2 separate regions of the Homo sapiens genome follow, and region 2 is linked to region 1. Evidence: fine-mapped QTL for protein levels in blood plasma. Region 1 holds a variant in brackets. A gene starts in the other region. All regions are shown on their reverse strands.

Region 1 (15,726 bases):
ATCGAGACCATCCTGGCCAACACGGTGAAACCTCTTCTTTACTAAAAATACAAAAAATTAGCTGGGCGTGGTGGCGGGTGCCTATAGTCCCAGCTACTCGGGAGGCTGAGGCAGAAGAATGGCGTGAACCCGGGAGGCGGAGCTTGCAGGGAACCCAGATCACGCCACTGCACTCCAGCCTGGGTGACAGAACGAGACTCCGTCTCAGGAAAAAAAAAAACCCTAACCTACAACATCACAGCTTAACCTAGACAAACTTAAATGTGCTCAGAACACTTGAATTAGCGCACAGTGGGCAAAATCATCTAACACAAAGCCCACCTTACAGCGAAGTGTTGAGTATCTCATGTCGTTTATGGACTGCTGCACTGAAAATGAAAAACAGAATGGTTGTATGTGTACTCGAAAGAAAGAGATAAGCGTTTTTACTGAATACCTATGACTTTCACACCATCATAAAGTCAAAAAATCATAAACTGAACCATTATAAATTAGGGACCAACTGTATTCTGATTCCAGAAATTGAGTGGAGGAGTTGAGGTGGGAGTAGGGAGGCAAAGGACAATGAGCTTCCTGAGGTCATTAAATCAGAGCATGTGGGCTGCAGTTCCCCTCGACCACCAAAGCTAGCCTGGCCTTGCTCTGGACACTGCTGTAGGCTGTTCCAGAACTCAGTAACCAGAAGAAAAATCTCCGGGCAACAGGTGCTAACCGCAAGACCCGGCCACAGGCCACTGTGCGGCCTTCATGTCCCCGTTCACCTCTCTCCTCTGCACATAGGGCCAAGGAAAACGAGGCAGTGCCCAGCTCTGCCCCAGCTGGCTCTCAGCTACCTGGTAGTCTCTGGGCTGCAAAGGAGAGGTTCCAGGGCGTCAGCTTCAATCAGGAGGGCTTGGCTCCAGCGTGCCCTGTGGAGTGCTGTTACTCTTTTTGTTAGCTTTAGGAGACAATAGTCTATCTCGCTCCTGTCATTAAACTCAGCAAAAATGAGATGGCTAAATCAATAGCCTACCAAGCTTTGCTGACGGCTTTAAGAAGGGACCATCGCAATGTCAATATTTTTGTGTCCAAAATGACATTTATTTAATCTGGCTTCCTTCTTGCTTCTGTGGAATATTGAGTGTTGCTGCTGAGCCAGCCCAGGGCAAAACAAAGGCATGGGGAAACCTGTTCCCTGAGCCCCTGCGGGCAGCTCACTCTCCCTTCATACACCAGCACCCCTTCCCAGACCGCTCTCCTGTGTCCTTGGGCTGAAAGCTGCTCTTCCTTGGGGTCCTGCCTTTCATGTGGCGACCCAGGTTCAACCAATTTCTTGCCAAGCACCTATCCTGCTCCAGGAACAAGCCGGATGCCTCTACATACATGTCTCTATTTAATCCCCACAACAAATCTATAAAATAGGCATTATCCTCATTTGCAAATAACAAAACCAAGACAAGTTCCGAGGCTCACAGGGACACCAAATGCAAACTGGGAGTTTAACCCGGGTCCTCTGGCACCCACATCAGTGCTCCTCCCATGCACACCTTGGTGCATCTCTGATGGTGAAAGTTTAAGCACAGTGACAGCTGATAAGACCGTTTTGGTCAGGAGGAGCCTAGATCACATTTATGGAAGCATTTTGCAAGCTGTGCAGCTCAACACAAACAAAGAGATTTAATTGCACCATGCTGATCTCTGTCATCTCCTGCACAGAAGCACCGAGCCCAGAAAACACATTCATCCATCCATTTGATGCAAACAATTAGTCATCTGCCTGTCTGGGTTGAGGGTGTCATGTTGGGCGAGTGGCAAGAACGCTCCTTCTCTTTGCATAAATCTAATTAACCACCAAGGCTCGCAGATTCTCCTGTGCATCTCTCAAATCTTCCGGCTTCATCTCCATCCCACTGCCCTTCCCTAAGGCTCCATCGTCTGTCACCTAAATCACTGCGGCACCTGTGCCTGGTCCCCCGGTGGCCTCCCCTGTCCCTGAAAACTCTCCACACTGCAGCCACAGCCAGCTTTCTAAAGGCTACATCTGAGCCTGTCACACCTGGGCTTAAAGCCTTTCCACAGCTCCCACTGTTCTCAGCCTGAACTTCAAGTTCCTTGGCCTGGTTCTCAAGGTTGTGATCTGGTGGTCACCACCATCTCCAGACCTTCACCTTCACCCTTTGTGCTCCAGCTCTGTGGACCACAAGCATCCACAGGACACATCTCCTGCCTCTCTTTGCCAGGTGAACACCTCCACCTTCAGCTCTTAGCTTTGACATCACCTGCTCTGGAGACCTCACTTCCCCAGGTTCAGCCAGTGACTGTCCCCCAGGGCTTCCCAGTGCCCTGTGAACATTGCTGCCACTACTTACTTGCAATCACAGGCACTCTTCTGGGGTCCCCACTAAATGGTCGGCTCTGAAAGTGCAGGGACTGGGTCTGTGTCGTCCACGACTGTGTTCTAGGTGCCTGGCACGAGTGAGTATTCAGTAAGTCTTTGGGCAAACAGACATTTGTCTGTGCAAGCGCCACTGTTGGCCCCATGGAAAGCTGGCGGGGCTCAGAAGCCACCCTTTCTCACTTGCCCTTTGCTGAGCACCAATGGGGAGGCAGTTCCATCACAACACACAAGAATGGGGGCGCAAAGGAGGGACCCCCCCCCCCGGGTCATCTCAGCCACTCCCTAGACAGAGGAGCCCAGACCCAGCCCAGAGGTGCTAGCCTCGTCACTAGAAGTCCCAAAGAAGATGCTCCTCTCCCGCACAGCCAGGGCAACCAGAGCCGAGGGTTAAGAGAACAGCCAGTGTGTTCCATTGCCTGGAAGCCCCAAAACACAGCACAGTGACCCAGTGGGCATCTCAACAGGCCTGGGGGCAGGAGCGAGAGTAAGAATGAGCAGAGACAGGGTGGCATCCACCCAAATTCCTATGAGCTGGTTTGTCCTCCGCAGACGATGAGGGGGTCACCTGCTCCTCAGCCACGATCAATCCTGACCCTACAGCCACAAAGTCTCTCTCGGTAAATATCCTGGGGAGGTTCCCAGGGACATCACTCCAGCTGGACCTTAGACAGAGGGTGGCTCAGACTCAAGGCACCGTCTCTGGAGGCTCTGGGACACAGCAGCTGCAGGAGGGGGCCCCAGAGGTTGATGTTTTGGGATAATTCTGTGTGGACCTGGCCACTCCCTTGAGAAGGCGGGAGATGGAGTTCCACAGGCAGAGGGGTTTCAAGATGCTCACCTCCAAACCTCCAACTGCTCTCAGACCCCCATGCACACTCACCCTCACGCCTGCCTCCACCCTGGGGACATGAACACAGTGAGGACCAGCAAGGGGAGTTCTGAGCTTCTCATCTGCAACTTGTCACCTTGACTGACAGCCAAGGAAACCCCACACACCAGGACCCCAACCAAGGCCGCGGGAGACTTCGACTGCAGGAAGGCGGCAACGTCAGTGGCCCAGCCAGCAGCTCTTCCTGCTCGCGGTTTTAATGGCCTTCCCTGCTGACCATCCTCATCCTGATTTTGTTCCTTCTTTGAGGCTGTCCCAGTCACCCTGAAAAGGCCAAGACACACTGTGAGGCCCCCTCAGTCCGAGACATCAAGGTCAAATGAACCCCGGGAACATCACAGGGATTGGGAAGAAGACTGTTTCTGAAACTGACAGCCCCCACCCCTACAGGAAGCCCCTTACCCTACTGGAAGCTGCTAGTGGCTTATTCCATACCCGCCCCACGATACACTTCGGGGCCTGGCCACAGGACTGGCCATGTGTGATGGGTGATTGGTACGGAGACAGGACTTCAGCCTCTCAGGCAGAAGGCCTCGGGCACTGGGACTGCCCCCTGATCCAGCCTGTTTCGAGGGGGGATGTTAGGATTCCTCAGGCACCCAGAGAGGACAGAGACCCTCCCCACGCCAGCAGATCTGTGACCTGGGCCCCAAAAGAGAGATGAGGTCCCCCTGGGGGTGTGTCTTGGATGAAGGGTAGGAGTGGTATCTGATCCCTCTGGGTCCCTCACACCAACCACGACCTAAGTCACAGTTTTGGCTGAGTGAACAAAACACACCACTGAGAGACAGCCTGCTGTGCTTTTGACACTTTATCCGTTTTTATTTAAAAACATGCTAAAAACATGGTGTTCCATAAAGCCAGGACCAGGATGAAGGAACGCACAGATACGGCAATGCAAGCAGAAAGTGCATCTGAAACCAACAAGCGTGCTCACCCTGCTCTCCCTCCCGTGCTGCCCGGGGGCAGGCAGGTGGGCAAGGAGGGGGCAGGAAGCCCCCCAGGCCTCACCTCCTGAGTCCCCAATCAGGGCAGGGAGGCCAGGCCCCACCCTGGACTATTGACTCACTGCAGTGGGGAGGAGGAAAGTGTGGGGCACGGGAACACAAGGGCTGGCCGGACTCTGAGAAGCTGAGGGACAAAGAATGGACCCCAAGCACCTCACGCCCAGCTCCCATCCTATGCCACGTCCCTGCTAGTTAGCACCTCCACCAGTGGGTGGGCAGGGGCTGGAGAGGAGGGGACAGCCACTTCCATCCACCCAGACTGCTCTTGGGCCACCAAAGCCTGGAAAGATGGCCATCTAGTTCCAAGTCAAACCAGGACACCTGCAAGAGGGTCCGGGGCAGGGCCACCTTCCAGAGAGCCTGAGACACAGGCCCATGCTGGAGGGAGAGGGGGGTGACACGGCTCAAGCTGGGGGAGGGGTGCAGGGGGAGACTTGCACCGTGACACCTGCTTCCACCACCCAAGAGCAGTTCTCAGCCTGTGCCCGCTCACCCCCACTGCAGGATGGCTGCAGAGAAAGGCTGAGTCTGCAGCGGATGCCCCCCTGCAGTCCTCTACAAACCCTGAGGGACTTTCTGAGACAAGTGTGTAAATTGCTCACATCAGACCTGATTGAACTGACTCTGGCAAAGGGAGCCGTGAGTGAGGGAATTCTCTCAGGGGAATTCTACCCCAGTGAGATCACAGTCAGGAGAAACTGAAGAGAGGCTGTGCCACCTTCACTGGCATCGCTGGGTGTGGCCCTCTGAGTGGAAGGGGCTCGAAGGAACACCCACTCTGTGCACACAGACTTCCGCCCAATGTAGACTAAGCCAAATAACAAAACGGCCAAGCGCAGAGTGAGTAAAGAAGGCAGCGTGGGGACCTGTAGATGAGGCTCTGCAAACAGACGGATGAGGTGGGGGCTGGTGGGAGCACTGTGGCAAAGGCTCTGGGGCCAGAGGCCACCCCTGAAGTACTCCAGAAACAGAAAAGATTTTCAGGGAGGTTGCACATCTCCCAATGCACTAGGCTTTTGCTGTTGATATTAACAAAAATTAAAAATTGCATTGATAGGCATAAACCAACCCACCCACCCCACCCACAGCAAAAAACGCACGAGGCCCCGGGTCCCACCGTGCAACTGCAGCACTTGTCTGCTGAGTCTCTCCGCCCGGATGTGTCTGCTCCGGAATCTGCACTTTGGGGGTTCCTGCGGAGGCGGCTGAAACTCCTTACCAGGAAGCCAGGCCAGGGGACAAGGGCAGGGCAGCTTTGCTCAAATGTGGGCCTCCCCCACATTCCATCAGCACCACTGCCCCTGTCTCAGGGAAGCGGTCTTCACCCTGCACAACTCACAAGACCACCCTACTCTCCACTCCCACCCCCACAAAACACGAATCCTGATAATGCCAACGGTTCTGTCCTCCTGTTCCCGATTTGTGTGTTACTTAAGGTGAACAGAGGAGTGACTGGTGCTGGGTGGCCGTGTCTCAGCTCTTGGATCAGACAGGCAGGTGGAGGCTGGAGAAGAGACCTGGCCCCAGTGGGAAACCAGGGTGACAAGACAAACTGTATAGGAAAGGCAGCCGCCCACCAAGGCCCCACCTGATCAAGTGCAGCAGACGCTGGCTAGCGGGTGAGGTCCCCGTGCTCAGTCCCACGGATTCGCGACCTTTTTGAACGGCAAAACAGTAAGCCAGACCAGCTGCAGTTTGGAGGGGGCGCCCTGCTGCAGCTGAATCCCACTCCTGGCCTCACTCCCCAGCCCGTTTCTCTCCCATGCCCAGCTCTGCACGTGCGTGACTCCGGCTGCTTTCTTCCCGTGGCTCCGGTAACAAGAGCCAGTCTGACCTCTCTTGGGTTTTCTGTATTTCTTCTCCTTGGGATCACAGATGATATAATCGCCACCCAACCCACTGCTGATGTCCGTGGCCCCAGGGAAGGAGGCGAAGATCTTGGGACCCAGGTGGACGTGATTCCCTCCTTCCCAGCAGGGCAACCCACAGCTGAGCAAGGCTGGCGGGGAGGACCGTGGGTCCTCACCCCTGTGGGTCCCCTGCCACTGTCCCAGCACAGCAAAACCTAAGGACTGCTTCCCCTTCCAGAAGCAAGGGGGAAAGTGAGCAGCATCCGAACTAGAGAGGTATTTGTCTGACAGTTTCTAGCAGGAATGTCTGTGAAATAACTGGGGTGTGCAGAACCTGTTGTGGGAATACCCACATGGGGTGGAAGGGGAAGCCTCGCGTGCCAGCAGAGAGCGGGAGGAAGGGAGAAAGAAAAAACCAACAACTGCTCATCAGTGAAAAGTCTAAGGACCCCTCTAGCTCTGCCACAGCACCGTGGGGCCCCCCTGCCCTGGCATTTCCAGCTCGATTGGTTAGCAAACGCCACCTCCCGTGCAGGGGCACCTCCAGCCTGCTTCACGCTCCACCCGCCTCTCCCAGGCTCCTGTCCTCAGACACCAGGCCTGGCAAGGTCCCGTGTCCTGTCCACGCCCCCTCCTTCCCACACGTTCTGAGGGCGCAGGCGCGCCCCATCCGAGAGCCTCCTGGGTGTCGCACGGTGGTCTGTCCTGATTGAGACTGGACAGATGTCCTCTCTTCCCACCCATCCCTCACCCTCAGGGAAAAAAAGTCAAACCATTAAAGAAATCAACACAGTAAAAAGTTACAAATCAGAAATCTAACCCTAAACTTATCTGAGAGATAATATTCCTGAATAATCATAGAGTAAAATAAAATAAAAAAGTTACATTGTAAGGTATAAAAAGCCTGGGCGAGATGCTCCAGGGGCCTTGCCCAGAGGCCGGCAGACCCCCGCCCCGCCAGGTGCCCCATGGTGGCCATGGATGTCGCAGCCCCCGCTGGGGCGGTATCTCCACGGGGCGGGCACTCTGCTCCCCACCCCATGTGGGGACAAAGTGTCAGTGTGAGGAAGGGCAGGGGCAGAAGCCCATCAGTGCCGGGGGTTCCTCCGGAGCGCACCCCAGCCCACCCTGTCGTCTTTGGCAAATACGCATATGCAGATGCAGGAATCCAGGGGCCCCGAGCCCCAGGTCTCCGTGTGCCTCCTCCTCCCTGGCACTCCACCCACTGAGAAGTCCGAGGCTGAGGCAGGGTAGGTGGGGTAGGGCAGGCTGTGGGGGGTGGGTGCAGGGGTCATATCTGGAGAGCGCAGGCAGG[T/C]GACACAAAGCTCAATCCTCTTCCCTCCACAGGGCAGCAGGGCGGGGTGGGCACTCCCGGCCAGCCCGCTCATGCGTCGTACTTCTTACCAGTCCGGTGGATGTGCTGGAAGAGGGTCATGGAGAAGGCCATGCCCAGGATCTGAAAGACACGGGGAGGGGCCTGAGGCAGGAGCTGCAGCAGCCTGGACCTGACCTCAGCCCCGAGAGGCTTGGGATGTCACAGGGCACCTAGAGCAAGCGGGGATGGCCACTGGTGTGCCAGGAAAATGCTTATGGAATGAAGACATGAAGAAAACCGTGAACAGAGGTCACCCTGGAGACACACACAGGTGAACTCTGGCTCAGCCTCGTGGGGCTGTTAGACCAGAAGCCATCGAACCTCTGCAGGATGCATACGTGTGCCTACTCAGAGGGGCGCTGCAGGCACGGAATGCACGGAGGACCTGGCTCTACGTGGGGGCTCACAGGAGCCAAGGTGGGGAGTGGGAGGTGGCAGGGATCATTCAGGACTCAGGCCAGCCGGGCACGGTGGCACTTTAGGAGGCCAAGGTGGGAGGATGGCTTGAGATCGGCCTGGGCAATAGAGGGAGACTCCATCTGTTTTTGGAAAAAAGTTGTAAATCATTCAGGTATGGTGGTGTATATGCCTGTAGTCCCAGCTACTTGAGAGGCTGAAGTGGGACGATGGCTTGAGCCCAGGAGTTTGTGGCTGCAGCGAGCTATGACGGCGCCACCGCACTCCAGCCTGAGCAACAAAGTGAGACCCTGTCTCTTAAAAAAAGAAAAATAAAGGACTCCTGTCAAGCCTCTCTTGTCTGCTTGTGGAACACATGGTGCGATGTCTTGGCAGCAGCAGGGCTGTCTTTCCAGTGATGTGTGCTCAGGACCACGTCACTACTCGTTTGTGCCCCTTCCCTCCTGAATCCTCAAAGGAGCCGGGGACCCAGAGGAGTGCAGGAGGCAGAAGGAAGCCCGGTGTGGTCTCACGGTCACCACAGAGAGTGTGCCATGTGCACAGGCTGTAAAGATGGTGACCGGGGGACACCGTGTGTGTCTTGCATGGCTCTCTGAGCTCAAGGTTTGGGCAGAACTGGGGGAACCCACGGGGGTTGACTCCAGCTTCAATATCCCAGCCTGGGCCTGGCCACAGGCAGCCCTGAGCACCACTCTCAGTGCTGAGTAGACACGTGCTCTCATATCAGAGCTCTGCGGAAACGGTGGCAGGCACAGCTGCTAAGCTTGAATAGCTGTGATGAATTCCAGACCCTCCGCCGTGTACCAACACTGCTTTCACTTCTCTGTGCTTCCTTCCCTCTGAGGCTGAGGCCAGCAGGGTGGGTGAGGCTGCTGGGGACGCCCCTCTTACCTGCATGATGAGGATGCACATCCCCACCGTGCCCAGCACGTGCTTATTGTCATCGAACCACATCTTCACCTTTTCATAGCAGCCCTGGGGAGCGAGGCCCACGAGGTTAGGGTCCCAGCCCAAGCATGCGCTCCCTGCAGCCCAGCCCCCAGCTCACTCTCTCCTTCCACCTCGTCCTCGCTCTTACCTCCCAGCCCTCCCTGGCCTCAGCCCTGTCCCCATCCCTTGGCGCAGCCTCCGCCCCACCCGCAAGGCCAGCTGCAGAGCCTCAGACCCCATTCAACCCCTCGCCCTCTGACTCTCCCAACTGTGGGTCCAGCCCCACCCCCCATTTTCCACCTGTCTTTTGGCTTTATTTTTGTGAGCCCCCCACCGCCACATTCAGCCAACCTCTTAGTGTCCCGGGCCCAGCCTCCCCTATAGGGCTCCCCGTGCCGGGGCATCCACACACGGGCTCTTGGACCCAAGCGGTCCATCCCCAGCCTCACCGTTCTCCACAAAGGCGTGGTGGCGTTGCGCCCGCAGCCCTGGGAGTTCTCCATGCAGCAGCGGTCGGGAACCGTGTTCTCCCCCAGCACTGGGTACCAGTCTGTGTAGTCAGTGACACCACAGCATCGCATCTGGCCAGCAGGAATGGAAGGGGCAGTCAGACATGCCATGGCCCGCCCCTTCCTCCCCAGGGCCTTCCCCTGCCCAGGCCAACCCCAGTCCCCGCAAAAGTGGCCACCCTGCAGTTAAGGGAGGAGACAAAGGGCTTGCTTCTTGTCCCTTCTTTGGGCTTCAGCCGGGCCCACTGGAGAAGTGAGTGAGCACTCCTTCCTGGAGACCAGAGCGGGAGAGGGCAATGCAGCCCACCCCTCGGGCTGGGCCCCTTGGCTCAGCCCTGTGCTTGCCCACCAGCACCTCTGCTCTTTCTGTAAACCGTCCCAAGCTGACTGCCACCCAACCCCCTGCCGGCCCCTCCCCAGGGCTTAAAATGGGAGCATCTGGGACTATGGACTTGTTCTCCTCCTAGAGCCAGGGCCTCCTCACCTAAGCCAAGCCCCATCATGGAGGCAAATCTGTTGCTAAAATAAATTCAGTCATTCATCCCAAAGCTCAGCCACAGCTCTCTCAGGCCTGCCCCTCCTGTATCCTCATCCCTCCCTGGCTGTACCTTGCTGTATCACATCTGACTCAGCAGTTCAGGCAAATGCCCCCGTGGGTACCACTCCACTCCCGGCTAAAATCCAGAAAGCACAGGTGCCCGGCCAGGTCACCGGGGAAGGCAGCTAGAAGTACCGGCCGCCACCCCTCCTCCCTGCCTGGCCCCACCAGGGCGGCCCAGCCCGCACCTCAGCCTGGATGATGTTCCAGGCGTTCTTCAGCCCCACGTTGTTCTCGGTGTGGTACAGCAGCAGGCCTTCCTTCAGGTCCTTCTTGGCGTTCTCGTTCACCTGCCAGGCGGAGGGACACAGTGAGACGGTTGGAACCAGGACGCAGCTCGTCTCTCCAGCCCACCTCAGGTCACCCAGGATGGTGGGTGACAGATGAGGAGTGAGGAAGGCAGGGAAGGCAGCTGGTCTGGAAGGCCCTGCCCACTGGGGTGGGGGCCTCTGCTGGCCCAACAGAGGTGCGGGGTTAGGCACACACTCCCAGTTTCAGAATACAGCAGGCCCTGGTGCACCCACCGCCTCCCGGCAGAGCTAAACTCAGGGCCAGGGCTGTAACACCCAGAGGCAAAAAAACACACCACGTGCCTCCACTCCCCCATCCCAGGACCAGCCACACACACAGGCCACTCTGCCACCCCCGCCCCCCACTACACAGCTTCCCCACAGACTGCCCCTCTCAAAACACACCCTGGGAACTAGAGGGAGGAAGACAGGTCATGTGACCTTCACCTCCCTCACCGCTGTTCTACCCGATGTTGAACAGCAGCATCTACTCATGGCGCTGTTGTTAGAATTAAGGGAAACAATTCTCATAAAAGGGCCAAGAACAGGGCTGGCACAGAGAAATCTCTCAACATTGTTCTTTCTTCCTTTTCACGAGTGCAAAACTAAAAGATTATTCTTTCTCATCCTAACGATGTCTCTAACTTTCAGTGTGGCTCAGGCAGCTATTTCAAGAACTGCTCCTTACACAGTTCTGGAGTGCATGGTACCAAAGGGCCTGCCACGCCCCAAGAGACTGAAATCCCGGCCAACCTCGCTCTTGACTGCGAACTGCCCAGCCTGGCGAGGTTACAGGGGGTCACCCACCATCCTCCTGAACCCAGGAGCAGCGCCCGTCCTCAAGGGCTCTAGTGCAGGAAACAGAGCTTCCCTGTGCCTCAGTCCTGCTCAGCCAGCGTCGCCCAGAGAGTTCCTCCTTGTTTTTCATGGTTTGCTCTCAAATCACCCAGCCCAACCACCTGATGAGGTCTGAATCCCTTCTCCAAGTAGCTTAATTCCTTCCAGTGAGAGGGAGCTCACTAGCGCCAGAGGCAGCCCACTGCCATCTCTGGTCATGCAGAGGATTCCACTTCCTGGAACTATACAAAGTCAACTCTCCCATCCTCCAAATTTGCCTGCCCCATGCTGCCCCCATCAAAACCTTCCATCTGCTCTTTCCTTGGTAGCTTTCCCAACCCTTGGTTCCATGTTCCTTTCTGCACAGGTGCTGCTTGCCAGCACTCTTCCTCTGGCCAGGGAAGGGACCCTGGCCTGCTTGGCCCAACTCTAAGGGCAGTGACATTCCATATGCCCCCTCCCATCTGGTAAGGCTTACCTTGTCCATGTAGACAAAGAAGAGGATGAGTAAGATCAGCTCTGCTAGGAGGATGACCAACAGGACGATGAAAAACTGGAAAGGAAAGGGCCAGGCATGGGTAGGTGGTAATGGGCAGGGCTGAGGACAAGGAGGGTGTGGAAGGCAGGGACAGGCGGCGCCTAGGTGGGGCTTCCCAGGTCTGGGAGAAGCCAGCTCCTCCTGAGGAAACCCAGATAGCTAGGACAGAGACATAAAGGAGCTGACTAATCAGGGAGTGGGAGGGACAACCAGGGGTAGGCATAACCAACCATGAGGAGGAGGGGTGTGGTCAAGCCTAGAACGTTCTAGAAGCAGTTTCCCTGGGCTCAGGTTGGACACCCAGGTGGCTAATATTCCAGGTCTTGCCTGTCCCAGGGGTCCAAGTGCAAGGAGATCAGGAGTTGGAGGGGCTGGGGATTTGGACAGAACTTACGCTGAGGAGGAGGCACTTGTTTTCCTTGATGGCCCCCAGGCAGCCGAGGAAGCCCGTCACCATGACAATGGTGCCTATGGCAATGACCAGGTTGGCTGCAGACAACGAAGGGAAGCTGGGGGAGAAGGTGGCAAAGTTGCCTTGGGACACGGAGAGCCAGATGCCCACTCCCAGCAGCCCACAGCCACAGAGCTGGAAAGGAAGGAAAGCCCATTAGCCTGGCGCTGCTCTCACATTCGTCCATGGACCTGGGAACAGTGCAGGTCCCCACCCCATGCTCTGAGACACAGACAAAGTGAGAACCGACAAGGTGAGAACGGGACTACCGTTGGGCTGCAGACCCGAAGCATGTCGGCTGTGTGACCCAGACAGTCCCCTAGCCTCTCTGTGCCTCAGTCTCCCCATGTGACAACGGAGACTGTGCCAGTTTCAAGAGCCTCCCAGGTCATTCTGAGGATGGATTAAACCACACAGAGGCAAAAGTGCGTAACAAATACGTGGAAGGTACTGGACACATGTGAGTGGTTAGGTTACTCTGCATGATAGAGAAGAGGCCCCAGTGTCCAAGACGGAGGCCTGGTGAGAGGGGAGAACTGGGGTCAGGAAAAGCAAGAAAGACTTCATCTCTGGAGGTGGGAAGGGACCCTCGGAGTCGGGTTTCTTGGAGCCAGAACTTCCAGCGACTGTGTCCTGTTACTCTGACCCGAAGGGCCATTTGTCCACTGGAGTCTGAAGAACAATTTCCCACAGATGGAGAAAGGAGGCAGTCATCGGCTGGCTGGGGGCCTGGCCAGTGTGCGGGACGTGGGAGTCCACGGCTGCCTTCACCACCCATCCAATAAGCTGGCCTCTGGCATGATCGGCCCCCAAACCGAAAAGCAACTCTCCCCAACAGCACCCCTGGGGCTGCCGGCGCCACCAGCTCCACCTGGGGAAGCTTCCATTTCACCGGCTGCAAATCTCCACATCTGTCTTATTTTATGCTCGATATAGCTGGCACTCCCCGACTCCCTCCGCCAGCTCATGGGAAGTGTGCTGAGTCTGAGGAGCCAATCAATCAGTGAAACAGTATTTACTGAGTGCCTACAGCATGCAGTGTGCCATGCCAGAAAAGCTACAACCACTTTAAAGACCTGTTTTCCAGGGGCCTCTGTTCTGGCTGGATGGGAGCAATCAAAGTGCAAAATCTACCACTCCCAGGTGGGATGGACTGGTGCCCAGTCAACGCTACGGGCGCTCAGAGGAGGCAATCACTGTCGCAGTCATGGAAGCCAGTTGAAGGAGGCAGTCCCTAAAGGGTGGGTGGACTAGGGGCAGATGGAGGACGAGAACATTCTATGCCGGGTGAAAGTGCAGGTGGTAAGGGCTTGGGAGTCACAGACCCAAACAGGACTCCCGGCTCCAGCTTATCCTGGTGGTGTGAGCTTGCAAACCTCTCGTATGCAGAGTGAGAATATCATCCCCTTCCTATTGGACTGCTGTGAGAATTAGATTGGAATAAGCTACGTGAAGTGGGTGGCCAGCTCCGGGCACTGCTTGCTGGAAAGGCACTTCCCGGGCAGCTGTTCTGTGCCAGGGCCTGTGCAGACTATGCTGACTCCAGGAATCAGCCCAGCCCCTGCTCTCAAGCTGCTCTGGTTCCTGGGAAGAAACAGAGGCTCAGGGCTGAGACAGGGCAACCCGCAATTAGGCAGGGTAGGGATGCCCATGGGAAGGTGAGGGGAGGGGACAGACGCCTCCCTGAGGAAGGGCATCTCCTTCGCTTATTCCTCCACAAACCCAAGTGAACACCTGCGTATTCAGTGCCAGGCCCTGTTCTCCAAGCTGGGGAGACAGTGGTACACCTCACTGGCAAAGACCCTGCCTTCACGAAGAGTAGATTCTTACAGGAGACACTGACCTTATGTAAGCAACAAATGACGTAACTGCAGTTGCTGACATGCGCCACGAAGAAAAATAAGGCAATGTAAAGAGCCAGAAAATAACTGGGGAGGGTGTGGGCAGCGAAGGTGTCTTGGAAGAGGTGGTGTTTAAGCAAAAACCCAAATAAACAGGGGGAGGGAGCAACATAACTATCTGGGGGAAGAACGTTCCAGACAGAGAGAACAGCAGGTGCAAAAGCCCCGGAGTGGGAAGGAGCCTGGCCAGCCAAGGAGGAGCACGCTGGCCGTGTGCTACAACAGTGAGTGAGGTGACACATGGTAGGAGACAAAGCAGGCGGGGTGGCCGGGGGCCAGGCCAGCTGGGACCTCGCAGGTAAAGGAAACGTGCAAGTGTCCTCAGTGTGACGGGAAGGTCCCAGAGCTGGAGAGTGACATGATCTCACTGAGGTTTTCAGCAGATCACTCTGGCTGCTGTTTGGAGAAGCGACCGCGGGAGGGCCCGAGGGAGGCCAGGAGAGCAACTGGGAGGCTGCTGTGATTAGGCTTGGGTTTGTGGAGGAATAAGAAGGAGATGCCCTTCCTCAGGGAGGCGTCTGTCCCCTCCCCTCACCTTCCCGTGGGCATCCCTACCCTGCCTAATTGCGAGCCTCTCTTTCTTCCCAGGAGCCAGACCAGCTTGAGAGCTGGGGACGACTCATACCAGGAGGCTACGGAGGAGCGGTGAGAAATGGTCCAATTTGAGATGTTTTGAAGGTGGCATTGACAGGCCTTGCTGGGCTTTGAAGAATGAATAGGATTTTGATAAATGGGGAACCAGAAAGGTGTGCATGAAGAAAAAGGTAGGAACAGACACCGCCACGTATTACTAACCAAGAGACAGTGCAAGGAGCTGCAGGGGGGTCCGAATGATTTACGTCCAGCAGCTGCCTGGGTCCTTCACACTGTGGAGAGTGGGCCTGTGCCTCCTGTCCCCTGGCGCAGCCCCACATGGAACCACGTCAGGGCTCCCAAAGAATGGGCACACTGAGACCCACAGCATCGCCCAACTGGGCCATCACAAAGCTTCGCCAGGGAACGGGGCTAGCCCCGCCTACGGCCACTAGGTGGCGCTCCAGGCTGGTTCAGAAGCTCTGGGTTCGCCAGCGATGGCTGAAACTTTCATCCAAATAGTCACTCTGACTTTTCTTCAATCTGGTCAGTTTCTATGCTGCCGTCTCAATTTTTCTTTCATTAATCATACCATGGAGAATTTATGATCTTCATGCTGAAGATTTATGGCTCTAAAAGCCAGACCCTGGAATGAGTAAGCGGAAACCCCACTGCCGCAGGTACTCGCTGCAGGGGAGCTGCAGGGCGCCCCCACACGCTGCAGCTGGAGACACGCAGGACCCCAGAGCTCAGAGCCCGGACCCTTCTCGGGCCTGGAAAAGTTCTCAAAGCACAGCCTTCTCCTGAAGCGGTTTCCCACTGTGGGTGTACCTGCAGCGGGGGGCCCCTTCCGAGCCCTCTCTCCACTTCCCTCCTGGGATAAGTGCTGGGATGCTCAGGTACCTCTACCTAGGAAAACCTCTTAGGTCAGAAACTCCAGGACCTGGTCACCTCTCTTCAAACTGGTTCTCTGACTTCACACTCCACATCCTTTGATTTGGTCTTGCCAGACCCACCTGGGAGCCTTCTACCTCTCAGGGAACACAGCTGGTGCCCTGTCCCCAAATCTGCTTCCTTTCCCATTTCCTGTCCAAAGTCCTCCAGGCCCCCAGGAAAGATCTGCGGCCTACCCTACGGGGGCGCAGTCTGGACTGGAAGGCTTCCTCTCCAAGCCCTCAAACCTG
Region 2 (15,726 bases), not on the chromosome of region 1:
TGGTAGCCTTCAGAAAAAGATGGGCGGTGAGAAAGTGGCAATGGTAGGATGAACTGTTAGAAAGCAAGGATGTTTAACATTTAGTTCTAAGTGTTAAGATATGAACTCTTTCCATAGTCCCAAACCTTAAAATTCTAAACACTCAAGCCACACATTTGGTGGCATTTTATGAAGTGAAGGTTATTCGTGGCTGGGTGAGTGGCTTCGGATCATTTTAAACTTCTTAAGGGAAAATATGAATTCAGATCCAGGTGACACTAGAAGAAACATGAGCCCTGTCTCCGTCTCTAGCCCCAAGAATCCCATAGTGGTTGAAAGGAAGAACAGTTTTCTCATTTTACACCTTCTCATGGAATAGGGAGGAAGATTTCTAGCCAATTTTTACTTGAATCTCAATAGGTCCCCCTAATCCCATCTAGTTTCTATAAAATAACTGCAGTGTAATGTGAAGGGTTCCTTTAACGCAGATAGTACTATGGGGATGGGCAGGTCCTGTAAGTGCCTATTATAAAATTATTCTCAAATGTAAACTCACCACTACTATGGAATGGTTTAATCACTATTGCTTGAAGATGCTTTGTAAATTCCTGCCACCACATGTTTGCTGAGCCCATTCCCCCACCTAAGATGCCCCATCCATTCAAATCTCTCCTTCAAGGTCCCACACTGCCAGGAAGCCTCCAGTGAGCTCTTGTGGCAGCTCTCAAAACTGCCACTTGGCTCTTACTATACCCAGGCTTACCTGCTCAGTTGTTGTTTTTTTTTTAATTGTTGAGGGTACATAGTAGATGTATATATTTATGGGTTACATGAGATATTTTATATGGGCATGCAATGTGTACTTTTTTAGTCTGTTTTTTCCTCGAAGGCAAGAGCTTCTTGGTAATTACACATGGTATTTTCCCCTATGCCCTACACAGCTAATAAATATCTGATAAACAGCCAGGTGCAGTGGCTCATGCCTGTAATTCCAGTACTTTGAGAGGCTGAGGCAGGCAGATCACTTGAGGTCAGGAGTTCGAGACCAGCCTGGCCAATATGGCAAAACCTCGTCTCTACTAAAAATACAAAAATTAGTCAGATATGTTGACACATGCCTGTAATCCCAGCTACTCGGGATGCTGAGGCAGGAGGATCACTTGAACCCCAGAGGCGGAGGTTGCAGTGAGTTGAGATTGCGCCATTGCACTCCAGCCTGGGCAACAAGAATGAAACTCCACTTCAAAAAACAAAACAAAACAAAACAAAAAAAACTGGTGGAACAAAAAGTAACTCTCCAACCTATTACTTTTTTAAAGAACCAAGTCACATATTTTTTATCAATTCTTCATCCAAACTCAAGTACTTTTCTCAAGATGTCAATAGGGGTGGATATTTAAATTTTTTTGTTTTGATTGTAGGATTAGTCTTCTGTGCCACCAAGCAAAAATTTCATAGTTCTATTTCACTCTGTGAGGAACAAGTTAAATTTGTGTGTTTTAGTTTTCAATTTGCCATCAAAAATTATTTTTTAAGAAAGCCAAAATTCTTCAGCAGAAGGTATTCAAAAGATCCATCTTGGGAACCACCACCTGTGGCTATGTTGAGAAACAGCCAAATCTGTACAGCTCATCTGGGTCAGATGAGACATTAATGACAAGGCACTTAGTCATCCTCTAGGATGTTCCCAAAGATAAGATGTTTTTAACAGATGCTAATATCCTGCACATGTACCTATCAAGATGAGGTTTTCCATACTGAAATACTGTTTTCTTTGTCTTAGAAGTGGGAAGGGGTACAATTTATTGCCCTCTAAGTAGGAAATTGAGGTGCTTAAATGCTTTACATAGTTTCTTTATCTAGGAGTATAAATCACTAGAAATGAAATAAGAGAGGAAATCACTAGAAATGAACAACCATAATAACAGGATGTATTATCACATTCACACTTTCCAGATTGGCTAATGCCACAGAGTTTGCATTATCAAATAACATCCACACAGTGACTTGCCATTCCACAAATAAAGTTCTATAAAGTAAAATAACATTGGTTTGTACCTTCTTTTTCCCTCATAGTATGAGAAATCCTTTTACTAAATGCTCTAAATTAGTCCTCTGCAATAACTATATTTAAAAAGAGTTAGAATGATCATGGTGAACAATAATGCAAAATGGTAAAGAGAGACAAAAGGTAAATTAAAAATTTCAGGACATTCAGATATGAAGAATGAATGAATGACTGAATAAAGAGATTAGGAGAGCAGTTAAAAGACTTCCAAAGGTTGGCAGAAAATGATACAGGCTTATGCTAAGCTAGAAAAAGTTCATTTCAGAAACATAATTTTAAAAGAAGACAAATCAACAGAACCCAGTGAATCTTGTATTAATTCTTAAAACTAAACTAATTATTAAAACCAGATACTGGGTACACACCCTTGAGAAACTGAGAGTAAAGGCAGTCCTCAATATTGCTTCGTTTGAAGTCCATCAATGTGGATATTTGTACTACATCTATTGATGCTACTACCTCCCTGCCCTGTGTCATGATGACACTCAGATGCCAGCTAATGAATGAACTTTTTATGTTGTTTATTTTATGGTGCAGCTGCCCTAAGCCAATAGTTCAATTTTTGCAGAATCACCATCCTTGTCATTACCCAGAGAATTATTCATTCACTTATTCAAATGTTACTGCATATTTTCATTATTACAAAAAAGTGAATGGGAAATGGGAAAATTAAAAGCCTAATAGTAATTATGAGAAGTGTTTGTCTCATAAACTAAGTAAGACAAAGGTAGAAGTTATTAGACATGCCAAAAATGGCAAATCTTTTCATCTGAATCAGACATTTATTGAACTTGAGCTGGTCAACTGTTATTGAAATGAGGAGAAAATAACCAAAATTGTGTAAAGTTTAAAGAAAGAAAAATTAGAAAATGGAGTATACACTGAATGCTGTGTCTAAATAGCAAGATATAATTAGAGATTTCATAATATATTTGGCTTTCTATGGCCAGAATCCCCTATAATATGTAGGCTTTTATACAATCTTCAGACCTATTTTCAGGAATGTGTCCTTTCAGGAAAGAAGGAAAGACAGTATTGAACCAGTCACCATGTTTCTGATCAAATACAAAAACAGAAGCAGAAGTGTTTTATAAATGGAAAAGCACAGAGCAAAGTTGGTTTTTATTGGCATTGGCACTTCCTTTCCAGTGCTCTGACACGTCATTCCAAAAACCAAACCAAAACCATCCTAAAGGATAAGCTCAGCTCTTCATTATACTGCCTGCAATAATGTTCAACATGTAACATTAATTCAGTGGCATTTGGTGTTTCATAAGTCCTCTTAGGATATTCTGTCTTGTCCTTTTTCTACTCCAAGTTATTTATTATTATTATTATTATTATTATTATTATTATTATTTGAGACAGAGTCTCACTCTGTCACCCAGGCTGGAGTGCAGTGTCGCGATCTCAGCTCACTGCAACCTCTGCCTCCCAAGTTCAAGTGATTCTTGTGCCTCAGCCTCCCAAGTAGTTGGGATTACAGGTGTGTGCTACCACTCACGGCTAATTCTGGTATTTTTAGTAGAGACAGGATTTCGCCATTTTGGCCAGGCTGGTCTAGGATCCCTGGCCTCAAGTGATCTTCCCACCTCAGCCTCACAAAGTGCTGGGATTACAGGCGTGAGGCACCATGCCCAGCCCCACTTGAAGTTATTAACTTCCTAGGCTATGTCTAGCCAAACTGGAAATTCCCAACTGGCTTTTCCACACCCTCCATATGTATACAATACTGTCCCAACCACTTTGTCTGCTAAGAAAATGTTGACTATCATTCATCCATTTACTTTTCTCCAACATTCTCTAGGCATTTATTCCATAACTACTATGGGCCAGCCACTTGTATAAGAGCTTACAATAAGGAATGATGAACTCACCAATCTGTTAGGGATAAACATTCAGATAATAAATATGGCTGATACAATGTGATTATGCTATATTAAATCTATCCACAAGAATGGGAACTCGCATGAGATATCGCTAAGTTTATGAGATAATTGGGAAAAACTTCAGAGGGAAAGTCTTCAAAGGGATTTGAATAGTGTCTTAAAAGATGAATGGGTGGTAAGTGGTTGGTTAGACAGGAAAGAGGGTCAAAGACATTTTCAGAGGAAGGAACAGCATATACAGCTGGGTCATGGAAGAGTGAAAGTGCACAGCGTATTCTTGAGATAGTAACAAGATCAAGATCAGTGGGAGCTGGAGAGCTGGGGACCAGAGAAGCAGAAAATAACCCTGAGAAGTGCTGCAAAGGTGGTCTTGTGTATAGCGGTAAGGAGGTGAGACTTTATGCTGTAAGCCAGTGTTTCTCCAAATGTGATCTGACGTCAGCTTTACCAGGTTCACCTGGAGATCTCAAAATGCAGATTACTGGCCCTTACTTCTGGGGTGAAGCCCTGGAATCTATATTTTCAACATGCACCCAGGTAACACTGACATTCACCATCCAGAGAGCTGCCAAAGATTTTTAAACAAGGGAATAACATGATCAGATTTGCATTTTAGAAATACACTATTAAACCAAGCAGACAATCACAAAGAAGGTAAATTCACTGCTGCTAAATGAGCATGTGACTTGAGTTTTGCATTAGAATCACCTGGGGAACTTGTAAAAATGCAGACTTCTCACAACTCACAGAAGACTTACTACTTCTAAATCAAGGCAGAAGGGATTAGGGTTTGTATAGTTTGAACCATACAAAATTGCCATTTATTTAGGTCAAAAATGGTCAAATATCAGCAATTTCTCATAGTTCACTCTAATATTTTAACAAATCTCCCCACTTCATGCTTCTGGTATAAACCAAAGTCTGAGAATAGTGAAAGACAGACAGAGATAAACGCTTTTCCCTTTTCATTAATTATCGATGTTGTTACTCACTTTGATGAATATGCAAAGATGGAAGTAACGTAATTTATGTACCTAAAACAAATGTTAAAAGAGAAAAGTGGGGGTTCAAAAACAGCCACCAATGAAGTAAGGCAGCTAATTTAAGGATTTTGGAGCCAGAAGGAACACTGGAGGTTATTCTACTCTTTCCCCACCTCTCAACACAAGTTTATACATAATAAAACTGATGCCTAAATGGAGAAAAGCAATCTGCTTGAGGTCATAGGGAATATTTTGTTCAATTTCTCAATGATACGTGCTTTTTATGTGCTCTTATGAGCATTTTAACAGGTATGGAAATTGTGTAGCTAAAAATACTTGGGATTTAATTTATAGAGTGCTAGGTCACACACTTGAAATGGGAGGAGGCACATAAAGCCAATACTCATGCATAGCCATTTTTAAAATATAAAACCTAAAACAGTGCTTGACATGTAATAGATGGTTAATAAATACTTACTGAACAAATGAGTGACCTCTAAAAAATAGGTTAAAGAAAGTATATTAATGTAAAGGATTTCCAAGGAGGTATACAGGCTGTGAACTGAGTGTAGATTTCCCACCTCCTCACCTGTTCCAAGTAGTCTTTGGTGCCCATCCATGACCCACCACCCTATAAATTCCAGCTCTGCCATATACACCTTTATTTTTCCAACTGAAAGTGCCACAACAAAAAAGCAATACAAAGATCATGTCTGAGCTAAGTTTGACAATAGGTGGTAGTGAAGCTTACAGATGAGCACAGTCTTCAAAGTCCATCCAAATAGGAATAATAGCTAACACTTACTGACAGCTAATAGAAGCTATACTAGAGGGATACAACAATAGTTAATGCTAGCTATACAATAATAATAAAGCTAATTTGTGCCTACTATGTGTCAGGCTTGTTAGTCCTTCACATGCATTAACTTACTTAATCCCTTTAACAATTGTCTGATGTAAGTGCTATTATTATCATTTTGATTTTACATATGTGGATAAACAGATTAAGTAACTTACCCCAAAATCACAGAACTGAAAAGTGGCAGAGTTGTGAGCTGAACCCAGGCTGGCGGGTGCCCAGAGTTTACCAACTGAACTCTTTGAACTCTCAGTGGTAAAATTAAAAGTTCCCTGCAAGCTGACCTCTTGGAGCACTCGTGTCAGGAAGATGACATTTCTGGATAATATAAATTGGCCCCAGTATTTCTGTCCATAAGGAATGAAGCATTTTTATTTGGGAACCCTATACACAAAGTGAGACCCAGGATATAAAGGAGTAAGGCAAGAAGAACAAGAAGAAATGTCATTCTCTTCTGCCTTGGCACAGCATGGTTATCACAGCCTAAGAACAATAATAATGGCTAATTTTGGCTAATAAGATCTCCAACTTTGACTTTCTCCTAAATAATGTGGGTCCTTGCGTGAGGATATTTTCTAAAGAAGCAGCAAAGATATTGCCATCATTCATTTGCTCAGTGGTGTCACTAAGAAAAATACTTCCAGAAAGAAAATTAAGGCCAAAACACTTCCTTAAACCAGGCGTAAAAGTCCTCTAACAAGGAATTTAAAAGAAAAAGATCAACACCGGATTTATCTTTCTTAAGTAACTATCACTTGAAAAACCGTCCCTCCCAGCACTCCTTAAGGAGCCAAGCATACTGACAAGGCCCCTTTGGTCTAAGACTGCGACCTCACACCCCTACTGATCGCTGAGAACTCAGGAAAGGGGAGCATCCCGCCAGCCTAGAGCGTTATCTGCACAATCTGAATACCAAGGACGGGAGAAAGAGAAGTTTAGAAAACAGTGAAGATCCCAGAAAGGAAGTTCAACTGACCTAGAAGAAAGGGCCCAGCTGAAACTGCCTTTCAAGCTCAGTCCGATTCCCCACAAATCTCCCTACATCCAGCTATATCGCCCGGCAAAATGAAACAAACACAAGGTAAGGCAATACAAGGGCAGGAATTATGCAAAATAAAATGCGTAATGAGGATGTCTCTCCATCAAAAATACTCCAGGATTTTCCTACACAATCCCATGTAACAAAACCAAATGCAAACAACAATAAACCCTTAAGAAGCGCATGAACAACGCAGACTGAGCCCATCTCGCCCCACCTCACGCCGCACCCCGGTACCCTGGCTAAGGAAAATGTGACCCCCGCCCATGAGAAGCCTTCCGGCGTCCGGCCAAGGTCCAGGAGCCGCCGGAGTTGAGTTTGCCCAACTCTTACCCAGGTCCAGAGATCTTGAGAATCGCAGCGCAACCTTTTCTCCCCGGTCTTCACCCAAAGCCAGCCAAGACACAAAATCTGTTCCAATCAACGCGGTTAGCGTCCAAGCAGCGTCCCAGAAGAAAGCAATCTTTGGGAGTCTTCTTTCAGGCGTAAAGGTGGAGAAGCGGGAAAGAGGAACGTCTCAACGCGTTCCCAGTCGCCCAGTTTTGCGCACCGGGAAAGTACTTGCTGCAAACTTGAACAAGGTTTTCTCTGTCTGGCCCGAGATGCTGGAGGGGGTGGGGGCGGGTAACCCGAGCCGGGGCCGGGATTCGAGCAGTTGCCGCTGCTGCAGCTGCTGCTGCCGGGGCAGTGGCCGCTGGGGGGTTGTCGCTTGGCGCCGCGCGCAGTCCCTAGCGCAACATGCAGGATCTTCCCGGCCTGACTGCTGCACCTCGATCGTGAGTCGCCCCTGCCTGAGCGGCTTCCACCGCCTGGTGGGTGACCCCGCCAAAGGCCTGGTCGCGAAGTTAGCAAATGTTGGGGTCACCGCAGGGGGTGACCGAAGGGGTGTCAGAGTGGGTGCCCGCCTGATTCCCAACCCACGTTGGGTGCAAGTCCCTCGGCAGAGTCCCTGGGAGGTGTTCTAGACCCTCTGTAAGGATTTGTGGGACGGTGGCCGGCGCCCGAGCGGCCAACTGGAGTGGACGGCGGGTCCTCAGTGGTGTCAGGGGAGAAAGCGCAAAGGTGGGACCCAGAAAGGATGGTGATTAAGCCGTGCCAGAGAATGTGATGTGGCAGCAAAGTACATGGAAAGGTGGGGCGGGGAGGTGAAGGCAGAGGGTGGAGGGTGGGATAGTCTGCTTTACCATGGAGGGGCGGAGAGAGAACTCCCCGGACGCGCAGGAAAATCCCCCCAGGTCCTCGGAGGCCTCGCGCGGCAATTTATTGGGGAATGGCTCCCTCTGCCGACTCGCCGAGGAGGCCCCGGGAGGCCCAGTGATGGAATGTTAAAACCATGAACGGGCTTTTCCATTTGTGGGTTAGACAGGACATGAATTCTGGAATCTGCTTCTCTGACTGTCCATCTTCCTCTTCCAGACTAAAGAGTTTTCCAGCTTTTACAGGACCCCAAAAGATACAAATTTGACTGCTGCAAAGTTCTTTCTTGTGTCGTTGAATTCTATCCCCCTCTCCCCACAAAAAAACAAAAACAGGTTTAAGCCCCATAACCACTCCAGGTAACCATCTCCTACCAGGCTTCTCTTCCTCCCATTAATAAGAACTCTTTCTTTTTAGAGAGACTTCAAGAGCGTTCGAGTCCCTACTCAATAACGCTCCTGGAAAATAGTACAGACTCCATATTATGTTTGAGTGAATAAATGAATGGAATGAATGAACATAGATATGTTTGAAGCCCCTCACCATCCTCTTTACTCTCCCTGGAAATACACAGGGGAAGACTGTTTTGGTGTTTGTTTATTTGTTTGTTTAGCAGTCATCATTGCCCCTTCTCTGGTAACAGTACCTCCATTTTTCTTTGAGATACCATCCCTGCCACAAGGACAGCAGTCTGGGTGGAAGGTCAGTCAGGATGGTCCAGCTTTTCCCTGTCCAGAAGAGAGCAACTGACCTCAGCTAAGCCCCTCAGGCCCTCTCTGCCAGGAGTTGGAACTTTGATCTGGGCAGCACAGGCACAAATAATTCTAGAGGTGATTAATCCATATGGCTGTTTTCTAAGGAAATTGGCTGTTAGTTCATGCCACTTATTACCCAAAGATATTTTGCTTTATGAAACTTGGTTGCCCCACTTTCCTTTTAATTTTTTAATCAACTTTATTGGGGGATAAGTTACATTCCATATATTACACTCATATTAATTATACAGCTTCATGAGTTTTGAATAATGTACACACCCATGTAACCACTGCTTCAATCAAGATAATGAACAATTCCATCACCTCAGAGGGTTGTCTTGCACCCCTTTAAAGTCAACTTCTATCCCACCTCATATTTGGCCCGCTTAGCTGTTTTCTGTAACTACAGATTAGATTTGTCTTTTCTAACATTTCATATGAATGGAATCACTTACATATTCCTTTGTGTCTGACTTCCTTCACTCCACACAATGTTTTTGAAACTCATTAATGTTGTGCCTGTATCTGAAGTTTGTTCCTTTTTATTGCTGAGTAGTATTCCATTGTATGGATATACCACAATTTGTTTGCCAGTTTACCAAATGATGGACATTGGGGATGTTTTCAATATGGGGTTATTATGAATAAAGCTGCTAGGAACAATCTTTAACAAGTCCTTTTGTGGACATACATTATTATTTTTCTTATCTTACAGGAGTAAAATTATTATTACAGTAACTGTGTGTTTAACTATATAGAAAGATGAACTGCTTTCCAAAGTGGAAAACATTTTACATTCTCACCAGCAAGATATGATAATTGCTTCACATCCTCATCAACACTGGGTAGTTTCTGTCTTCTTATTTTTGCCATTCTAGTAAGTATATAGTGGTATCACATCGTGGTTTTAATTTGCGTTTCCTTACTGACTAATGATGGTGACCATAAAAGATGTTTACCAGCTTTTCATGTGCTCTCATGCCACCTGTTCTTTGATAAAGTGTCTGAATTTATTGCCCAATTTTTAATCAAGTCTTTGGATTCTTATTATTGAGTTGTAGGAGTTCTTTATATACCAGGCATTTGTTAGATATGTATATAACCAATATACACTCCCAGTCTGTTTCTTGTCTTTCAATTTCTTAATAGTGTCTTTCAAACAGCAGTTTTTAATTTTGATAAAGTCCAGTTTATCAAGCGTGTTTTTGTGTGTGTGTGTTGTACTTTTAGGTTTTACATAAGTAATCTTTGCTTACCCCAAGGTCATGAAGATTTTCTATGGCTTCTTATAGAAGTTTATAGTTTTAGCTGTTATATTTAGGTCTACAATCTATTTGATGTTAACCTTTGTGTATGGTATGAAGTAAGGGCTGAGGTTCATTATTGTCTACATGGATATCCAGTTGTTTTGGCACCATTTGTTGAGAAGATTATCTTTTTTCCCATTGAGTAACTGGATACCTTTATTGAAAATCAATTGGCCATAGATGAGTGAGTCTATTTCAGGATTCACTCATTATTCCTTTCATTTGATCTATATTTCTATTCCTATGCCAAAACCATACTGTTCAGATTGCTATAACTTTATAATAGGACTCCAACTTAGATGTAATAAGTCTTCCAACTGTGCTTTTATTTTTTTTCAAAATTTGTTCAACTCTTCAGCTTTTGTTTTTGTTTTTATTTGGTTTTCATCTTCCATGTAAATTTCAGAATTTGCTTGTCAATGTTTTAAAAATTCACTTTTCTAATTGAGAGTGCCTTGAATCCATTGATCAATTTAAGGAGAACTGACATAAAAATATCGATTCCTCTAACCTATGAACATTTATCTCTCCATTAATTTAGGTATTCTTTAATGTTTCTCAGCAATATTTTGTAGCTTTGAACATGGCAGTATTACACACAATTTAAAAAATGAATCCCTAAGTATTTTATTTTTAATATTTCATAAATGGAATTATTTTTGAGTTCTTGTTTCCAATTGTTCATTGCTAGTATGGAGAAATACAGTGGAATTTTGTGCAGTACCCTCACATTTTGCAACATGGCTAAATTTACTTATTCGTTCTAGTAGTTTTTCTTTTTCAGTTTGCTTAGGATTTTCTACATGCTCTGCTTCTTTTATTTATTTGTCTTGCCTTATTTCACTGGATAGGATGCCCAGTACAACATTGAATACAAATGCTAAAATTTAGTATCCCATCCTTGTTGCTCATCATAAACCAAAGCAATCTGTCTTGTACCATTAAGTAGGATGTTAGTTGTAAGTTTCATTAAACTCCCTTTATTAATTGAGAAATTCCTTCTATTTATAGTTCACTAGAAATTGTTTATTTTACCATGAGTGACTATTTAATTTTGTCAAATGTTTTTCTGTATCAGTTGAAATTATTATACGGTTTTTCTCCTTTTTTCTGTTAGTTAACTGAACTGCTTATTAAACTTGCCTTGCATTCTTGGGTTAAAGCTTACTTGGTCCATGTAATGTATTATATATTTGATATACTGTTGGATTTGATTTGCTAAAATTTGTTCAGGATATTTGTGTCTATACTCATTAAAATTATTGGTCTGCATTTTTATTTTCTTGTTATCTCTTTGATTAGAAGTTCATCAATTTTTAAAAATCAATTCAAAGGATCAGGCTTTAGTTTCATTGATTTTTTTCTATTACTTACACATTTTCTACTTTGTTGATTTTAGCTCTTACCTTTACTATTTCCTTCCTTCTATATACATTAGATTTATTTTTCTCTTCTTTTTTCTTTAATTTCTTAAAGTCAAATTTTTGCTTATTGATTTTTAGATTTTTTTCTTATACAAGCATTTAAAATTATAAACTCCTCTCTAATAATTACTGTAACCATGTTCCACAAATTTTGATAACCTGTTTATATAGTTCAAAATATTTTTTCTTTAACCCATAGGTTATATAGAACACTGTAATTTAATTTCCAAATTTCAGGGAATTTTTTAGGTATTTGTTTTATTGATACATAATGTTTTACATATTTGCAGAATTCATGTGAAAATTTGTTACATGCATAGAGTATGTTACAAGGGGAGCATCTCGGGTATTCATCACCTTGAGCATTTATCATTACTATGTGTTAGGAACATTTCTAGTCCTCTCTTCTAGCTACTTTGAAATTACAACACATGGCTGCTAACAATAGTCACCCTTCTCTGCTACTGACCATTAGAACCTACAACTTCTATCTAACTGAATATTTATACTTATTAACCAACCTCTCTTCAGGTCTCCCTCTCACTCACACACTCTTTCCAACATTTGGTATCCATTATTTCACTTTCTACCTTCAAAAGATCAACTTTCTTAGCTCCCACATATGAGTGAAAACATGTGATATTCCTCTTTCTGTACTTGGCTTATTTCACTTAATGTCCTCCAGTTCCATCCATGTTGCTGCAAATAACACGATTCCAATTTTTTATGGCCGAATAGTATTCCACTTTGTGTATATACCACGTTTTTTAATCCATTCATCAATTGATGCATGCTTACATGGATTCCATCTCTTTGCTATTATGAATAGTGCTGCAATAAGCATGGGGCACAGGTATCCTTCTGATACATTGATTTCACTTCCTTTGATTAAATACCCAGTAGTGGGATTCAGATATATTTTTATTTATTTTAATTTAATTTTATTACAGCCAGCAAGAATAGTTCATCTTATTTCACTGCTTTTAAATGTGCTGAGACTTGCTTTATGGCAAAAATATGGTCTTTCTTGGTGAATGGTTCATGTGCACCTGAAAACAATGTACAACTGCTGCTGCTATTGGGTAGATTGTTCTAAAAATGTCAACTGGGTCTCATTAGTTGACACTGTTCATCAAGTCTTCTATTTCCTTACTAATTTTTACTATCTTTATTCTGAACACTACAACATAACTAATGCAATCTTAGATTAAGTAGACTTTTTTGTTGGTGGTAACTATATCACTCTGTTAACATAGAATTTATAATCTACTAAAATTCCAATTATTTTTCATATTTGCTATTAATCTTGACATCTTAAAATATTATTTGTATTTTTAGTTGAGAATTTCATAGTAATATTATAAGACTATTCATTTAGGTCTATCAAATTCCATTTTTGTATATGCAGTCCATCTTTAGAACCTGTCAAGGGCTTGGTGGAGCTAACTCTTTTCCTAGTATATTAGCTAGGCAGGTTGAAATCATGATATTGGGAATTGATCAGAAAGCCACGATGCTCTTGAACAAATAATTATTAGACATGTAGAAGCAGATAGAAATAAAATGCATATTCTAACGGAGACTTTCCTCTCCATTTATATTTATTCACATCCTGTAGTACAGTCATTCAACTGCTGATAAATTCTACAATTCTATTATTACATCCAGTCTGCTTTCTTCATCTGATCCACAAGGATTTTATGAGATATTTTTTCAATTACCTTATAAATCCAGAGATATTCTCATTTGTTCCATTTACCTGTCTGCTAATATTTTGAATAAAGAAAACTAAGTCACCCTACCAGTTCTACCTCTTAGCAAACAAGATTGGCTTCTTATACCCATAATTTCCTTTCAGTAGTGCTCTCAAATTATGCTTCTAAATCTATGATTTAAAAGCTTGCTTAGTTACAGCAATAGACTAGAGTTCACAGAGTTTACCTTCTTCCCACTTAAAAAAATAGAAGTGGGGGTTACAGCAGAGTGTAAACTCATAAGTATGGCAGAAGGTTATCATTTTTTTTACTTCATTCAATTCTAACAACAAGAGGCATGTATAATTATTCCTGCTTTACAGGTAAGAAAAAGAAGGCTCAGAGAGATCAATTATCTTGCCCATGATCCCATATCTAGTGAGTGGCAGAGGGAGGACTGACCCTGGGTCTGACTTCAAAGCTTATGCTCTCTCTACCACTTCACCTGCCTCAGAACTACATCTGTTTATTCTGGTCTTCTGATTGCTTACTGTGGTTCCTCAAATCTCACCATTATGCTATGTTTAAACACTTTTTCCTCATAGTCACTGAAAATCTACACTGAAAAAAAAGTGTTCAGGAGCCTTAAAGCTCTTGTGTGTACACAGCTTTATCTCTCCCCACAACACAAATGCAGGCAAGATTGGAAGAGGTCATGTCTTTAGCCATAGGTCTCAGCCAAGGGACATAGAGGATTAGAAAGGTGGGGTTCTTGGCCCATGAGTCTCCTCCCAGATGCCTTCATTTCGGTCTTCTTCTTCCAGTCCTAGATATTTTTTATGCTCCCTTCTCCAGTATGACTCTTGTCCAGGTTTTTGAAAAGATCACTGTCTTTTAAAGGTAGTGGAGGAAGAAAGGGAAGAGCAGAACAATGGATGAGGAAATTGTATTTGCAGCCTTGGACCCTGTATCAGGAGTTAGGAGTACTTTTCTGTCTTCTTCATGTAACATGTCTTCACAGATTTAAGGCAATCCTAGTATTCTTACTTTGAAAGGGGCAACAATGGGATTCCAAATTCATCCGTTTATTTCCCCTAGCTTAGTGTTTTCCCCCAAAAAAAGTTTTAATATGATCCACAGTAAGAAGTACATTTTTCATTATGAACAAATTCTTATCTTTGTAAGTATATAATTAGAACAAGTTTCATGAAACAACACTTACTCTTACCATATGTAATGCCCTCTCATGTTTTCTTAATGATGCTTCTCGAACTTTAATGTGCTCATTCATCAGCTAGAGATTTTGTTAAATATGAGGTTCTGATTCAGTATCCAGGGTGGAGACCGCATTTTAACAAACTCCTACGTGGATGCTTCTGTTTCTTGGATTGCACTTTGAGAAGCAAAGTTCTATTCTGTATTGTTTTATTTAAATGTTAAATTACTTTTAGGACTCCCAAATGTGTCTGGACTGGCAGTTTGTAAAAGCATTGCTGGTGTATTGGGGCAGCATGCCTATCTAGGATATTCTTGTAAACATAGACTTACTGTGGAGTGGGATCATGCTTGGAAGTAGTTCAGCAAGAAACAGGATTTATCTTCCATATACCAAGACCAGAGAATCACAGAAGTAAAGACATGAATATCTTCCTGAAATTGCTTTTTTTAAAATTTCAACATTTGATATAGTGAATACATCTATTACAATTTGGAATAAATAAATCTAAATATTCTGCATAATGAGGACTTATGAATGTGTGTGAAAAGAAAGTTGCAAAAGTTGACTGAAGGTGAATATGGCAATGATGTAAGTATCAGGGGGAATAAAACATTTCCTGTAGTATGATCTTCTTTTGTCTGCAATATGAATGCATACTGTATCAGTCAGGGTTCTTGTTTTCAAGTAACACAAACCAACTCCAACTAACTTAATAAAAACAACACTGAGGGATTCCAGAAGAGAGGGCAGCTGGGAGGCCCAAAGTTAAAAATGAGCAAGAATCCCTTTAGAGGACTGGGGAAAAAAAAATCAAAGCCATAGTCTCAGAGCTGAACCAATCTGGTCAGGCTGTCCCTGCTGAGATTGATGAACTTGAACCATTTCTTTCCTTAGTCTTCACATGATGCTCTCAAGATCAAAGTCACAGGAGAGAGCATTCATTTGACTGAACTTAGGTTTTGCACTTCCTCCTGACTATTCTGAGAAAACAGGAAGGCTTTGGCCCTTCAAACTTCCATAGTGAGACAGGTGCCTGATACACCATCCTTCCAGAAGCACAGAAAAGTGGGGAGAGGGGATGTTGTCCCAAAAAGAAAAGAGGATACCACTGGGAAAAGAAACTATTAGATTGGTACAAAAATAATTCCAGGTTTTGCCATTAAAAGTAATTAGAAGTAATGGCAAAGCCTGCAATTACTTTTGCACCAATGCAATAGATTCTAAGTCATCAATAAACTATACTGGACACAGCGCTGCGAATTGGTCAGGCCTTTATTACAAGTATAGCAGTAAAGTAAATGGGATTTCAATTT

Alleles and levels. Positions count from the first base shown, and alleles are read on the strand shown. Strength reflects both the effect of a copy and how common the allele is.
With allele C in place of T in region 1, the plasma level of the protein whose gene starts at base 7,411 in region 2 is higher (weak association).

What was found. A credible set is the group of variants that fine-mapping cannot tell apart. PIP is the posterior inclusion probability: the model's chance that the variant is causal. Protein levels are from antibody-based Olink assays in UK Biobank. Linkage for the fine-mapping came from a reference panel and not from the study's own genotypes, which makes the PIPs less certain.
Region 2: it holds the start of MEGF10, and the variant in region 1 is the best candidate, but not a certain one, in a credible set for the plasma level of the MEGF10 protein (UK Biobank, PIP 0.53).

Annotation. Positions count from the first base shown.
Region 1 is chr12:3,274,898-3,290,623 of GRCh38, reverse strand. TSPAN9 (tetraspanin 9) reads right to left here. Exons shown (of 9, transcript NM_006675.5): 4 at 12,012-12,203; 5 at 11,558-11,632; 6 at 10,141-10,242; 7 at 9,295-9,426; 8 at 8,807-8,890; 9 at 4,065-7,579. The coding sequence ends at 7,508. Among named protein-coding and RNA genes, the nearest start is that of LINC02827, 18 kb to the left of the region's middle. RefSeq lists enhancers at 5,397-5,897, 5,898-6,398. The variant T/C (reference allele first, on the strand shown) is at 7,439.
Region 2 is chr5:127,282,481-127,298,206 of GRCh38, reverse strand. MEGF10 (multiple EGF like domains 10) reads right to left here and starts at 7,411. Exons shown (of 25, transcript NM_001256545.2): 1 at 7,151-7,411. It overlaps LOC105379199, which reads left to right and starts at 7,471. Exons shown (of 4, transcript XR_007058921.1): 1 at 7,471-7,629.